Linked DNA regions of Homo sapiens: region 2 is linked to region 1. The links come from fine-mapping of genetic effects on gene expression. Tissue or cell type: prefrontal cortex. Region 1 holds a variant in brackets; the other region holds the start of a gene. All regions are shown on one strand. Distances are from middle to middle.

Evidence for each region. PIP is the estimated chance that this variant, and not a neighbour inherited with it, causes the effect.
Region 2: GABBR2 starts here. The variant in region 1 is fine-mapped to the expression of GABBR2 in prefrontal cortex (ROSMAP, PIP 0.94).

Annotation. Positions count from the first base shown.
Region 1 is chr9:98,286,091-98,293,653 of GRCh38, forward strand. It overlaps GABBR2 (gamma-aminobutyric acid type B receptor subunit 2), which reads right to left. Exons shown (of 19, transcript NM_005458.8): 19 at 2,019-4,659. The coding sequence ends at 4,494. Among named protein-coding and RNA genes, the nearest start is that of TBC1D2, 34 kb to the left of the region's middle. The variant C/G (reference allele first, on the strand shown) is at 4,704.
Region 2 is chr9:98,706,431-98,712,722 of GRCh38, forward strand. It overlaps GABBR2 (gamma-aminobutyric acid type B receptor subunit 2), which reads right to left and starts at 2,505. Exons shown (of 19, transcript NM_005458.8): 1 at 1,987-2,505. The coding sequence starts at 2,307. RefSeq lists enhancers at 131-702, 1,274-1,844, 3,597-3,891.

The sequences.
Region 1 (7,563 bases):
AAGGAAGACAGAATGCTTTTGAAGAAGAATGAAGAGGAATGAAGTGCACCATTGCTGTCTGGGCTTTTCCTGCTTATGGCCAAGCAAGGCATCACTTCAGTGATGTGACAAGGAGCATCTTCAACACTTGGGTCATTTCTCTCTTTCAGACGTGCTAAGAGGAAAGACCAAATGTTGTCTTGGCTGACTCCATATTTAGTGAGGCTATGTAAAGATTTCTCAGTCTGTGGTAGCTGAGAAATTGCTCTATGGGGCAGCGTCTCACCGCTGTGGTCGTACTACCTATGGCAGAACAGGTGTGGGAAGTGGACTGAGAAGAGCCAAGTCTCAAAACCAGGACATCTGGGTTCCATGCTGGCCCTCTCGTGACCTTCTGGTTGACCTTGGCTCCAGTTGCTGGGCCTCCGTTTCCCCAACTGTACTAGGAGGGGCTGGGTGAGATGACCGCTGCCACCTTTCTCTGCTCTAATTTCTGTGAGTCAGGGTCAGGTAGAGAAGGAAGACCAGCTAAGATTCTGGTTGTTCCTGCCTTTGCCACAGCCTTATTAGGTGGCCTTGGGTACGTATTCTTCATGTTGGGCCTGTTTCCCATCCTTGAACAACCCACATCCCGTAGGATGGCTGTATGAGCAGTGGTGTGGAGCAGCAGGCACAGAGCAGGGGTCTCCTGGGCCAGGATTCAGAGAGCCTGCTCCTTGGGAGCCTCCACGTTGAGGATCCCATGTCCCGGAAAACTCCAGGCTGGGACTAGCCCTCCAGTGGAGTCTGTGAGTCCAGTGCACCCATTTCTAGGACTGCACCCAGTCACATGAACCTCGGGCCTCCCCAGCCTGCTGTGGCCACCTCTGCTTTTACTCTGCCTTCTAGACCCAGCAACCAGTGTGGACAAGCCTCTGTCAAAATGTTCAATTATGAAAAGCCTCGTTGAAGCCCATTCTGAGCTACAGGGAGGAACTGCTGCCCAGTGGAACGTCATGGAAGCAGACATGAGTCCCATCGTCAGGGAGCTCAGGGTCCGGAATGGGGAGGGGACAGCGTGGGCATGTATGCAGTGCTGTAGAGAGGGGGAATGTCCTCAGTCCAGAGCTAGGAAGAGAAGATCCCATTGAAGGGGATCTAGTCGGAGCTGCCGGCTGAGGCTCAGCACCCTGGAGAAGTAAAACAGACTTTGGGGTGGCTCCATAGGCTCCGGGGGGTGGGATGATGAGGCTAGAAAGGAGCATGGGGCCAAATCTCGACAGGCTGGCAAGGCCCCGAAGGGGAGTTGGGGCTGGAGAGGTTGTGGGTTTTCCATATTATTTAAGAATCTTGGGATTGCAAGTGATGGGAACCCAACTTGAACTAACCTCGGCAAAAAGGGCAATGTATCAGAAGAACAGAGAATCCAAGGAAGTCCTGAACAACTGAGCAGGTGAGGAGGGCCCAGAGTGCCTTCAAACCTCCTGAAAACAGCTGGCAGAAACCCTGGGAAGTGCTCTGATTGGCTGGTCCTGGATAATGAGCATATTCCTGAACCAATCACTGTGTCCGGGGGTGGGAGCAAGGATGGTGGGAGCAAGATTCCCTTCCAATAGGTCCCCTTCCTTACCCCAAAATCAGGGCTGTGCTTTCAGAGGAGCGCAGGAAGGGACCGCTAACCAGGTACTCAGACACCATCAGAACTCAGCTGTTGGTCCTGATTGTCTCTCTGTTGGCTCCATTTTTTTTTTTTTCTGTTTCATCGCAGACTAAATTTCTCTACATGGAGGAATCCTGAGGAAGTGATTTACCGGCCCAGCCTAGGTCAAATTCCCACCCTCGAATTAATCAGCTGTGGCCAGAAGTTGGGGTCACCTGGTAACAGGGCTGCTTTGCCGCTGTCAGCAGGAGGCTGGGATGGGCAGTTTATGAAGGAAGGGACAATGCTGAGCAGGCAACCCCAGAATTGTCCCCTGAGTTTCTAAGCGGAGGAATATGGCCCGATCTGACCTGCATTTTGGGATGAGTAGGCATTAAAGACGACAGGTTTTTTCCTTTTATTCATAAAAACAAATTTGCAACAATTTATTAAAAATCGATACCATGCAGTAGGGGTACGAGAAATTCCTCATTTACATTTGATTCTGGCAGTTCCAGTCTAATTTAAAGCGTTTTGTGCACTAACATCATTGGAAAATGCCTTCAGGCCGAAGCCTCTTCAGAAATGGACGGTGTGTTTGCTGCATATAAAAGAACAGAACCATTAAGTAGCTAGAGTCACTTCTGTGGGTCTTGTTATTTGCGAGGAAATTAAAAAAAAATGGGTGAACCTACAGTATCAGTAAGACAGAGAATGTACTTCGTGAGTTAACCTAGAAGACAGCGCACGCTCAGGAGTCACAAAGGGTTACAGACGCACAGGCTCACCTCCGACAGTCCAATACTTTTGTTTGTTTTCCTGCTATGCTGGAATAATATTTCTACAGGTATTTTTTTTTGTGTGTGTGTATACATTATGTACAATTAATTGTCTCTTTCCCTTTGAAAAATTAATGTGGTCCTTTAAATTAAATTTGGTTTTGGTGAAATCAAGAAAGCAAGTAAATACTGGTAATACACAGTGAGTGACAACACCGATTTTTAGTGCCTAAACAGAGAATGACTTCAACTTGACCTGTGATGTGTTAACATTTTTTTTTCCCTAAAAGCTACAGTACCTCCATAACCTCTCTTTGGGGAAGGGGAGCAGAAAGCTATGCTACGTGAAATAGGGTGCTTTGAAATGTTGGCATTGGTAAGATTCCTGTGGGCCCTTTTGTCAAAGCCTGGTGGAGAAAACAGTTTATTCCTGACTGCAGTGGTTCTGGGAAGAGATTATTGCCTGCCTGTTGAAGCTGCCAATAGGTTTCTTTAGGGAGTGAGCGAGCTGCTCAGTTGTGCAGACATCCTGGACATTGTCATTCAGGCCTTTCTTGAGCAAAGAATGAACCTGTCTAGGAATGTCAGAAAAGTCACTGGGAGCCTCCCTCCAGCCCGGATGTTCTGGGTAGAGGGCTGTGCTGGAAGCTTCTCTGGGCCACACCCCCGGCTGTAGGGAGGGCTGAAGGTCAGAGTCATACTCATACCTCACGGATCAGGGCGGCTTCACTGTTTGGTACAAAGCTTTCCTGGACAAGATCAAGTTTCAATCCTCAGAGTGACCTTGTGAGGTAGGCAGGACAGGTGTTTTAGTTCAACCCCAAGTTACAGAGGGGAAACTGAGGCTCAGAGAGACACTAGTGACCTGATCAAAGTCACGTAGGGAGTGGGCAGGGGACTGAGGACTTGAACCCAGGTCTGTCTGACTCCCAGGCCAGTGCTCTTAGGGGCTCAATTTAAAGGGAGGAATGATCTTATGAATGAGAATCAATCTGCTGACTGATCACCCCAGTGATCCCAAGGGGAGAGCTCACTGGCTTGTCTGGATGGAAGGCTGCCTTCTGGAAGCCAAGGGAAGCCCTCAGCCAGCAACTCTCTCCCCTATGTCTACGGGGATGTCTTTTAGCAGAGTGCCTCCAATTCACTTTGGTCAGAAACAAAGTTAGTGGGAAAAAAAAAAAAAAAATCCCAGCCAGCCCTTGGGCCCTGATGAGAGAGGTTAAAGTGCACAATCTTTCTTTATCGTGTTTGCTGGGAACAGACATTCCATGATTAGCTCGGGTGGTCCCCCTGGTTACTGGGAGCATCCGATAGGAACACAAGGACATGGCCAACGTGGTGGGTGCATGACAGACTGTCGGTGAATGCTGCAGAGCGTGTCTGCAGTGACGTGCCCTAAATCCCCACGGTCCCAGGAATGGGTGTTATTGTGTTAACGTGTGGCATTTACCAGAGTAACAAACATCTCATTGGGTGACACAGGTCCCATGTGGAGCATGTAAGTCAGCCTGCTCCAGTGCCGCAGCCCTCGGCCTGCCTGCTCCAGGGCTGTGCCTGTCTGCGCTCCTGCAGACTCCCTGTTCCAGGAAGGCTGGGGTCAGCTGGCCTGGCAGCTGGGGGCCTGGTGGCCCTTCCCACCTCCTCCCCCAGAGTGGAGAAGGGCTAGCCTGAGGGGTCACAGCCAGTGATGTGTGTGCAGAGGCAGTTTCTTCAGAAGCTCCTTGCCTCTTCCCAAGGCTGCTCGAGCCACTCCGTGACTTCCAGCTGGAGTTCTAGTGCCTCTCTCCTTGTCTAGTTTTTTTGTTTTTTTTTTTTTTTTTTTTTTTTTGCAAGTTTGATATCCCAGCGCCTCCTTGTTTGCAGATGTTAAGGAAGACGTCCCATTTCCGTTCCTCTTCTTTGTGAAGAAATAAGGACTTCACAAATAAGGCTCGAGGTCAGGTGCCAAGTCTCCCCCTGCCCCGTCCTGTCCACCTGAGTGCCATCCGAGTGGTCCTGAGAGGCCAGCCATGGTGCCCAGCTTCTCCGCAGCCAGAGCCGACAGTGTTTCTGCAGCAGACCCCTCTGCCCAGTGTGGTTCTGTCACGGGGGAGGCCCCGGGCCCAGGCCTCCCACCCTTACAGGCCCGAGACCATGACTCGGAAGGAGGGTGGCACATGTCTGTGGCGGGGGCTGGCGGTGGGGCTGACGCAGGGGCTGACACAGCTGGCGTCCACGCCTCCGATGGATGGGAGGTAGGCGTGGTGGAGGATGGGGAGCTGGAGGGACAGCCGACGCTGGATGCTGAAGAGAAGGAGAGGGAGGAGTGTTAGTGAAGGGTAGCTGGG[C/G]GCTTACCAGAAAGTTCCTTGGACTTGCTTTGGCTAAAAAAGCTGATGACAGGAGCATATTTTTCTCTGAATCCAAGATCTGTCCATCCAATCATCTAACCATTCAGCAATCCAGCAGGTATTTAATGAGGGCCCATATGTACCAGCTACTGCCCTGGGAATGACCAGGGAGACTTGAATAAACAAGGGAGATGAATTTTCTCGAGCTTTGGGCCAGGATTTGGTGGTTATTATAAATACCCTAGCAGAAAAGATGCTCCTTGACTTACGATGGGGTTACATTCCCATAAACCCATTGTAAGTTGAAAATATCGTAAGTTGAAAAATGCATTTAATCCACCTAACCTACCAAATATCCTAGCTGAGCCTCGCCTACCTTAAATGTGCTCAGAACACTTACAGTTGGGCCATATCATCTAACACAAGGCCTATTTTATAAAAAAGTGTTAAATATCTCATGCAATTTACTGAATACTGTACTGAATGTGTATCACTTTCACACCATTGTAAATTTGAAAAATGGTAAGTTGGGGACTGTCTGTATTACTAAGGACAAAGCTTTGCCTTTCTATCAGGGCTTTGCTGCAAACCAGATAGTTCGCATTCTCTACTCTTGCAAACCTCCACAGGGCTTTCAGTTTCATCCCTGAAAGACTTCTCGCCTGCTCCATCCTTCCTCTCTCCCGTCTGCCTCTGCTTTGCCCAGGACCGCATCTCTTCTTGCTGGGCCAATTCCCACAGGCTCTTCCAGCTTCTTTGGTAACTAGTGTTATCTTTCCAACACTAGGAAGCCAAGGAAGGGAAAAAAAGGGACACTGATGTGATATTTGGGGCCCCCTAAGTTCCATCTTTGGATCAGAATTTTCCAGGTGAATCTTCCATCCTTTCCACCTGTAAGCCCTGCCCTCTGGCAGCCAGTTTCCCTGGAAACCCTGCTCCTGGGTGCTCTTCTGCTGTTTCCCTGTCTGGAAGACTCTTTCTCTGCTTCCTGACATGATGAACTGTGTCTCCTTCAAGATCCAGTTTAAATATCACCTTGTTTGTGCTCACTCTCTGCTAGGAGAACCCTTCCTCTGCTAAGCAGAACCCTAGGTAAATACTCAGAAATGAAGCCAGAAAAAGCTGGAGGCAAGATGGAGCTGGGTGTGGGTTAGCACGTGATGGAGGAGCAGCAAGGGAAAAGGGAGCTGCCCTCTGACTCCCTTCTCATTGCCACACCCTTCTGGTCTTAATGACTGTCATGTCACTTTGTTGAAAAGGCTGCTTGCGGCAAATGTGCCCAGGTGACTGCTCCTCTGCTCGGCTCAGCTGCATTCTTGCACAGTTCTCCATGGGTGCAACTTTCACACCGCATTCCTTGAGAGAAGGGACTGAGTTCTTATGCCTTCTTGTGTTCCCAGTGCCTGGCCACTCACGTGCAAAAAAGCGAAAAACAAAAACCCCAGAGCTTAACAGACACCCAATAGGCAAAAGAAATACTGCTATTCCCATTATAAAGAAGAGGGAAGAGTACAGAGTTCAGGTAACTTCCCCATGGAAACAAAACCAGAACTGGGGAAGCTGGAATTCTTGCTGCTTCTGTTCAACCACATTGTTTTGTGGTGGAGGCGAATCAACTCATGGGGGCAGCCTTATCCCAACTGGGTGTGCCCTTGGGGTTCATTTAGGTCACTGGTGGGTTCTGAGATAGATGGGTACAGACGAAGTGCTGCCCACACTTTCCAGAAAGATTCCTCCCAAGAGACACCTCACAGGTGTGCATGGAACTACAGTGTTGGAGATCTCATTCTGAAGTTAAAGTTGGACCTGTATAATGTCAGCTGAAGTCTGTGTCTTAAGGCAAGATCATGCTGGCAAGAAGTCCAGGACAAAAAGGGAAGAATAAACTGTGACCTGGGAAAAGGGTGTCCTGTCCAAGCACCCAGGGCAGGGCTATCTGCCTAGGCAAGGTGGGTCCTGTGGTTGTCAGAGCATTCTTCTGTCTGTTAGGATCCTGTTCACCTTTCATTCATTCAACAAATGCTTGTCAAGAACCTATTCACTGGCAGAACCTGTGTTCGGTGCAGGGGACACATGAAGGACTCATAACTTACTCTCAAGGTGCTTACACTCTACTGGAGGCAACTGCTAGGCAAACTGCTGACAAATTCCATGTAACTCTCACTCACTGTCCTGGACTGTAAGCTGGCCAGGCCTTGGAGCTAGTTGGGTTGACAGGCCCTTAGCTCTAATACTAAAGAGCCCCAAATGATGCTGCAATTGGTGATTTGGCTGCTTTTGCTGGTTCCTCATTGCTTGTCACTTCCAGAGGCCAAGTTTCAAAGTTTGTATTTCCAGCTTCTGCTTCCAATGTGCTATAAGATGGGAAGGCCTAAAATTGCCTGTGGGAACAAAGCTAACAGAGATGTTCAGGTCTTTGCTTTGATGTCACCATCTCATTGAGTCTTCTCTGACCACCCTATTTAAAATGACACTCCCTGACCCCCTTCTGTGCTTTTCCTCCAAAGCTCCTATTGTTTGACATGCCACTTCTTGCTTTTTAATTAAGCTATCAGCCTCCTAGATAGAATGGAAGCTCTATGAAGATAGGAATTTTAGTCCGTTTTCTTCACCGCTGTAACCCTAGCACCTATGCCTGACATACAGGAGGTCTCAGTAAACTGTTAAGTAAATGCATTTAGCAAGGTTAAATTTTACACATAACAAAGGCAGCGTCTTGTGGTAGACAACATGGGATTTGATGTTGGAAAGATGTGAGTTCAAGTCCTACTTCCTGCATGTAGCAATTGAGTGACCTTTGGCAAGTCACCTCCCCTTTTTGAATATTAGTTTTTCATCTGTAAAAAGAGCACTGTAATTG
Region 2 (6,292 bases), 420 kb after region 1:
CGAAGCTAAAATTATCTTCTGTCTTCCTTCCCACTGTTTTCTAAATATTCCCACGAATTGAAGAGTCTTCTGACTGTCTCATCCTCTTGACTTTGGGTCCTTTCACTCAGAAAGTCATCAAGACACACTCGAAAAATAAAATGTAAAGGCTTCAACCCACACCCTGAAACGAAGCACCCATCTCTTTGCTGCCACAAACAGGCCAGTATGAAATCTCTTTCAGGGAAGCTTTCTAAAGGGAAGAAACTGATGATGAAAACATTATGCAGCTGACAATACTTGGTGATGATGCAAGCAGGGCTGCCCTATCTAAAAATGTGTTTGTCCCCAAAAGACCGGCTTTGCAGTGACCCCTCCAGAAGAATATGTGCAGTAGCAACAGAGAAACTGTCAAGAAGATATGCCTCCGTGTAACTGCATTGCTGTCTCCATTTATGTGTGCCAGACAAGTACCCCCACAGAACTTGAGATGCTCAGGCAAAGACGAGGGCGATAGGAATGTCATTCGGAAATGATTTCACACCGGGTTAGCCCTGCACAGCCAGCCAGCTTGCATCCTCTGGGGCAGAGGACGCCTCTCCGCCTGCAGCAGCCTGCGCGTACCGCTGCCAACTGCCACCGGTTCCTTCACCTTTTATTTACAGCGCAGAGCAAGCTGGTTCACCGGTGAAGCGGGGGAGGCAGGGAATAAGATACAATCTAGATTCTGCTCTTTCTCTGGGGACATAAAGAGGGTCCGACCAAGGAGGAGGGGAAGCCCAGATTGCACCACCAGAGCAGTAGCGCGACCCTCCTCCCAAAAGGGTTCTGCACCTGGACTCCAGCAGAAGCGCCCGGAGAGTCCCAGGAAGCCAGGATCAAGCCCAGCGCCTCGGCCCCGTTCCGCGCGATGGAAGAGGCGCCAACCGAGCGTACTGCACAGGAAATCACTGCCCCCTTCAGGCCGCGTCTCAGACGCTGCGGTCGGAGCACAGGGGCTCGCTCGGTCCGGAAAAACTCGCAAACCCGACCTTGCGCGGCCAGCGATCGCTCCTCCAGACCCGCTCCGCGCGCTCCAGCCCCGGCCTGGCGGTGAAGGTCCGCTCTGGGGCTTCAGGCAGAACCCAAACCGAGGGCGTGGGGAGGGGTCTTGGGATGGAAAGCCCTTGGCTCTCTGGCTCCGCTCCGGACTGCTCTCCAAGTCTGTGCTCCGGCTGCTAGGTCGGATGCTTCAAGCCTGAGCCGTGAGAAACTGCCTGCAGCCGCCCGGCCAACAGCAGCGGCGCGGCCGGACACCACTGCACGTCCGGGACGAGAACTGCCAGGGCACTTTCTGAGCAACTAACCCGAGGCAGGGGTCTCCTGAAATCGCTCTGGCCACAGGCAGCGCCGGGCACGTCCAGGCAGAAGCGCTGCAGAGCCGGTGGCCCCACACTTGCCCGCGCGGAGCGGGCTCAGAGCTGCTGGCGCGCACCAGGCGCCCAGCCACGCTGCACGCTCAAGCCCCTTGGGTTCCGGAGCCTTCCGGACCTCAAAGCGCGGCTCGGCTTCCCTGGGGGCCTGTGAGCAGGCCCGCGGCCCCTCCGGCCCTGGGTGGCCCAGTTTGCAGTCAATGCGCCTGTTCCTCCCACTCGGTACCTCGCAGCCCCATGAGCGGGACCTGGACAGGGACAATCAATGTAGGCCTTTGGGGGTCCAGCCCCCACCTTCTCCACTCCTTTTTCTCTGGTCAAAAGAGACCCCAGTCTTCTATCCCACCCCCACCCCTCCCCACACACACATACACACATAAGACCAGAGGAGGGGGTGCTTGGCAAATGTTACCAGCTGTGCCAGCCAAGCCCAGCAGGACCGCGGGGGTGAACACTGGGCACCAGCCCTCTCTGCCCTCGGCAGGCGCGGGCCGGTCAATCGGGGATCTGACCAAAGGCCGGAGGTTGCCTGTGTCCAAACCACCCACCCCAATGCCCCCCGAAGCCCCGACGGCAGGGGCAGCCGGACACTCACCTCCGTGTCATAGAGCCGCAGGTCGAGGAAGTAGGGGCGCAGGAGTGACTCGTTGCGGATCTGCTCGATGGCCAGTTCCACGGCGGGGAGCACACCGCGCCCGATGCTGCCCTTGGCCACCTCCTTGGTGAGCGGCATGAGGCCCATGATGGAGAGCGGCGGGCTGCTGGGCGGCGGCCGGGGGGCGCCCCGCGCCCAGCCCCAGGCCCCGGGCGCCAGAGGCAGCAGCAGCGGCAGCAGCAGTAGCAGTAGCAGGCGCGCGGGCGGCGGTGGCGGCGGCGGCGGCGGCCCGGGCTGCCCGGAGCTCCGCGGGGAAGCCATGCCGCGCCGCGGGCTGCGGGCGCCGGCTCACTCGGCCCGCATGGCCTGGCCCGGCCCGCCGCCCCGCGCCAAGGTCTTCCCGCGGCGCCCGCGCAATGGCGCCGGCCCGGGCCCCGGCTCCGTCTCGGGCTAGGGTTCCGGCTCGGCTCAGAACGGCCGCGGCGGCGGCGGCGGCAGCGGCGGCGCCCGTGACGGATCAATCACGCCGGGAAGGGGTGGGAGCGAGCGGAGTGCGGGAGGCGGGGAGCAAGCGAGCAAACGCGGAGAGGGGGGCCGGCGTCTCCGCGCGCGCCTCTCTCCAGCGCGGCCGCCCCGCACCGGGCCGCCTCCGCCCGCCCCCGTGCGCGCTCTGAACCGCTCTCCCGCCGGGAGCTGCTAGGCGGCAGCCCCTGGAGCTCGGCCGGGGGAGGGCGGACGGCAGGAAACGCGGGAGGCGAAGGCGAGGCTGCTCAGGGGCGGCTCGGGCCGCCTCCAGGGACGGGGACGAGCCGTGCGCGCCGGGGGAGGGGGAGGCGCTGGCGCTGCGGCGGCCGCGGGGAGGGCCACCTTCCCAGCACACGCACACACGCGCCCCCGGCCCTCCGCTGCGCCAGCTGCCGCTGCCCGCCGACCGCTGACCTCCAGGCACCAGAGCGCCCGGGGACAGCGATCTGGGAACCGGGACCGCGCGCTGGCACACGCAGTGGCCGCCGCCGCTCCGCCGAGCGCTGCCTGTAGCACCTGCACGGTGGTTTGGAACCGCTTCTCGGAGGTCTGGCCGGGAAGGTCTGGGCAGGAGAATGTTCCACGAAGGCGTCCCAGAGGCATCTGCAGCCTACGCTCTCCCGTTCTTTTCTGGCGCCCACGAGCCCCTGACCGAGTCCCGGGGGTCGCTGAAGACGCCCACGGGTGCTCGAACGCCCGTTGGTGCCAGGCTGCCCGGCCTTTAGGGCCTTGGCTGAGGACACCCCTTTCCTCCCCACCAGACGGAGCGACCGCCCTTTGCCAACCCCAAGCAAAGCTGGGGTCCCAACCTTACGTGCGCTACCGCCCCCTCCAGGCATTTGACCTCCCCGCGTCCCCATTCTTGATGGGCCCCGCCCTAGAAGTCTCCCGGGGTGGGAGCACTATCCTCAGGCCAGGGCGGGGCCGCGCGCCCCTGGACTTGGCCCTCTCTCTGCCAGGTCGCACTGGCCAATCTTAGCCAAAGCAGTCCCGAGCCAGATGTACCCGAGTGAGCTGACCTAAGACCTTGGGTTCCTTGTGCCTCTGCATACTTCAAGAATAGGAAACGTGATCATTAATCTATAAAGTCCCAGGGGCTGATTAATGCGAGGAACACAGTAGGACATCAAATCACAAAACATACTTGAGCCTGAACCAGGGACTGTGGAAGATATCGACGACCTTGTAACAAGAATGGAAGTTTGACCTTCGCTGAGTACTTACTGTGTGCCTTATGATGTAATCCCCACAACTGCCCTGTAAGCATACTGTGTTACTCACCCTTACTTTACAGGCGAATACACTGGTGCTCAGAGAGGTTCTGTAGCTAGTGGAAGCACACAGAGCTACTGAAGGACCGGAACCCAGAGCCAGCAGGAACTCCGTGCACAGTGCAGTGGGAGCCAGGGATGTGGGACTGCAAGTTTCCTCTCCAGGAGGAGCACTGCCCTGACTCAGTTGCTCTGGACATCGATTCCCTCCGGCATATGGTGAGGGATTTGGACCGGATGATGATGATGATGGCCACACACCAGCTCTACTGGAGTGAGGCAAGGGCAGCTCTGAATCCAGGCTGAGTTGTTAGGAAGCACAAAGATGTGAGTGGAGGCTGAGCAGAACTACTAGAGAGTACCTTGGACAGCGCCAGGGAAACCAGGCCAAATTCTCTCTGCCCTAACTTCTCTTTCCAGGCTTCTATAGACTCCACCTCTCCCGGCTCCACTTGGCATTTCCTTTTCCCCAAGCTGGAGGGTTTGCATGAACAGAACTCACCTGAGCATCTCCTCCAGGAAGGGAGGAAGGAAGGGAGGGAGGGAAAGAAATGGTCCAAAGGACAGTGTAATCCCCAGATACTCGCTCAACTGCTGTCTCACTTGACATCACAAATATCCTCCAGTCATAGTCTTCTGGCACCTGCCATTCCTCAAACCCTTAGCTCAGGTTTCTGAATGAACATTTTCACTTGGTTTTTTTCTTTTTTCTAATTCTTTCCTTTAGTCATTTGTGTCCTCCTTGCAAGCTGTGCCAATATAGAGTGTCCACTGACACCTACATCTGGGAATAAGTTGAAAGCTGGGTAACTTTGCCTGACATTTACTAAGGGGTTGAAGGCCCTACCTGGCATCCTGCCCTACAGCCCCTCTGTCTTCTTTTATGGTGGGGTGACCTGGCCCCAAGACGCATGACCTGGGATCTGCCCTGACCCAGGGGGCACCAATCTCACTCTCCATCAGCATGGCTCCAGGCCAATCTCTGATCTCACAGCCCACTCCTAATGCCTGGGCATCCCTCTGGTTCCAAGATCTTACTCTGGCCTGGTATTACAGTTTGGGTAACTGCATCCCTGATGTGCTTCCTGAGTCTGAGTTCCTGCCTCAGTCACCAGCCTAGAATGCATGTTCCTCCAGAGCTGGGGTCCAGCGTCTTGCTTTATAATAATCATTCATTCCTTTGACCAGTGTTTTGAAGGGCATGCTACCTGCTAGGCACTGTCCTAGGAGCTGATGATATAGGAAGGAAAAAACCAGAACAAAATCCCTGCCCTTGTAGAATTGACATTCTAGTGGAGAAAGAGAAACAATAAATAGGAAGAAGAAGATATGTTAGTATGCCCATTTATGAAAAGTGCTATGGTGAACAAAAAAGCAGGAAAGAGGATTGAGACTGGCAGAGTGGGGCTGCAATTTGAAATAGGGAGGTCAGGGAAAGACACACTAAGGTGACTCCTCAGCAAAGACATAAAGAAGGTAAGTAAGAGAGACAGGCGAATAGTGTTCCATGCAGAGGAACAGCAAGGGCAGAGGCTCCGAGACAGGAGTGTGCCTGGCATGTTCAAGGAACAATGTGGAAGCCAATGTGGTAGAGCAGAGTGGGCAAAGGGAAAGCAATCAGATCCAAGGTCAAAGGCAGGTAGGACTGTATGGGGCCTCAGCACTGGGAGGGCACATGAAACAGCAACCGTGGGAGGCTACTGGGTGGAGCAGTGACATGATCTGATGTATTTTAAGAGGATCACTCTGGCTGTAGAGTGAAGAACCGTTAGCAGGGGAAAAGAGCGTGAGCAGGAATACCTGTTAGGAGTCTCTACTACAATAAGCACATTTGGTGGCCAGGCCAGGGTATAAGCAGAAGAGAGGATGAGAATTGGCTAATCATTGTGCTTCTTATTAATTGGAATAAAATGCATTGGCCAAGTCCCAGAATGTGGAAAACACTTGATTCCCTTGAACTCATCTACCTTTTAAGAGATGTAATAGAGACTTAGAAAGCAACGTGCTCAGGTTGCACCTCCAGGAAGTAATGAAACATCCGTGTTAGCCCAGGTCTGTATGGCTTAAATTATTATCTTGTTTGCATAATCCTGTTTCCTTAGCAATCTTTTCTCACAAACCCTCTGCCTACACACAGAAGCCAGTCTCTAAACCCCAGCTCAGAGGTTGAGAGATGGTGCCCGCTTCCTTTCTGGGGATTTTGGGGCTCCATGGTCCAGCTGGCTCCCTGTCAACATGACACTCCATCCCTTTGAACAGGATCCTGATGCTGGGAAGCTAACCAGGCCTTTCTCTGCTGTCTGCTCTCCTTCCTTATTGGGCTGACACCCTGTGCCACCCAGGGCTGCTCAGATCTGCCCTCCAGAGCTGCCTCCTTCCAGGAACTGGGTCCAGTTTTTAACACCCTTTTCCCCATTTGATTGTTATCCATGCCTGCCTCTACTCTAACTCCTAACAGCAGCAAGGTCTTCTCTCACTTTCTTCTTTAAAACAAAACAAACTATATATAT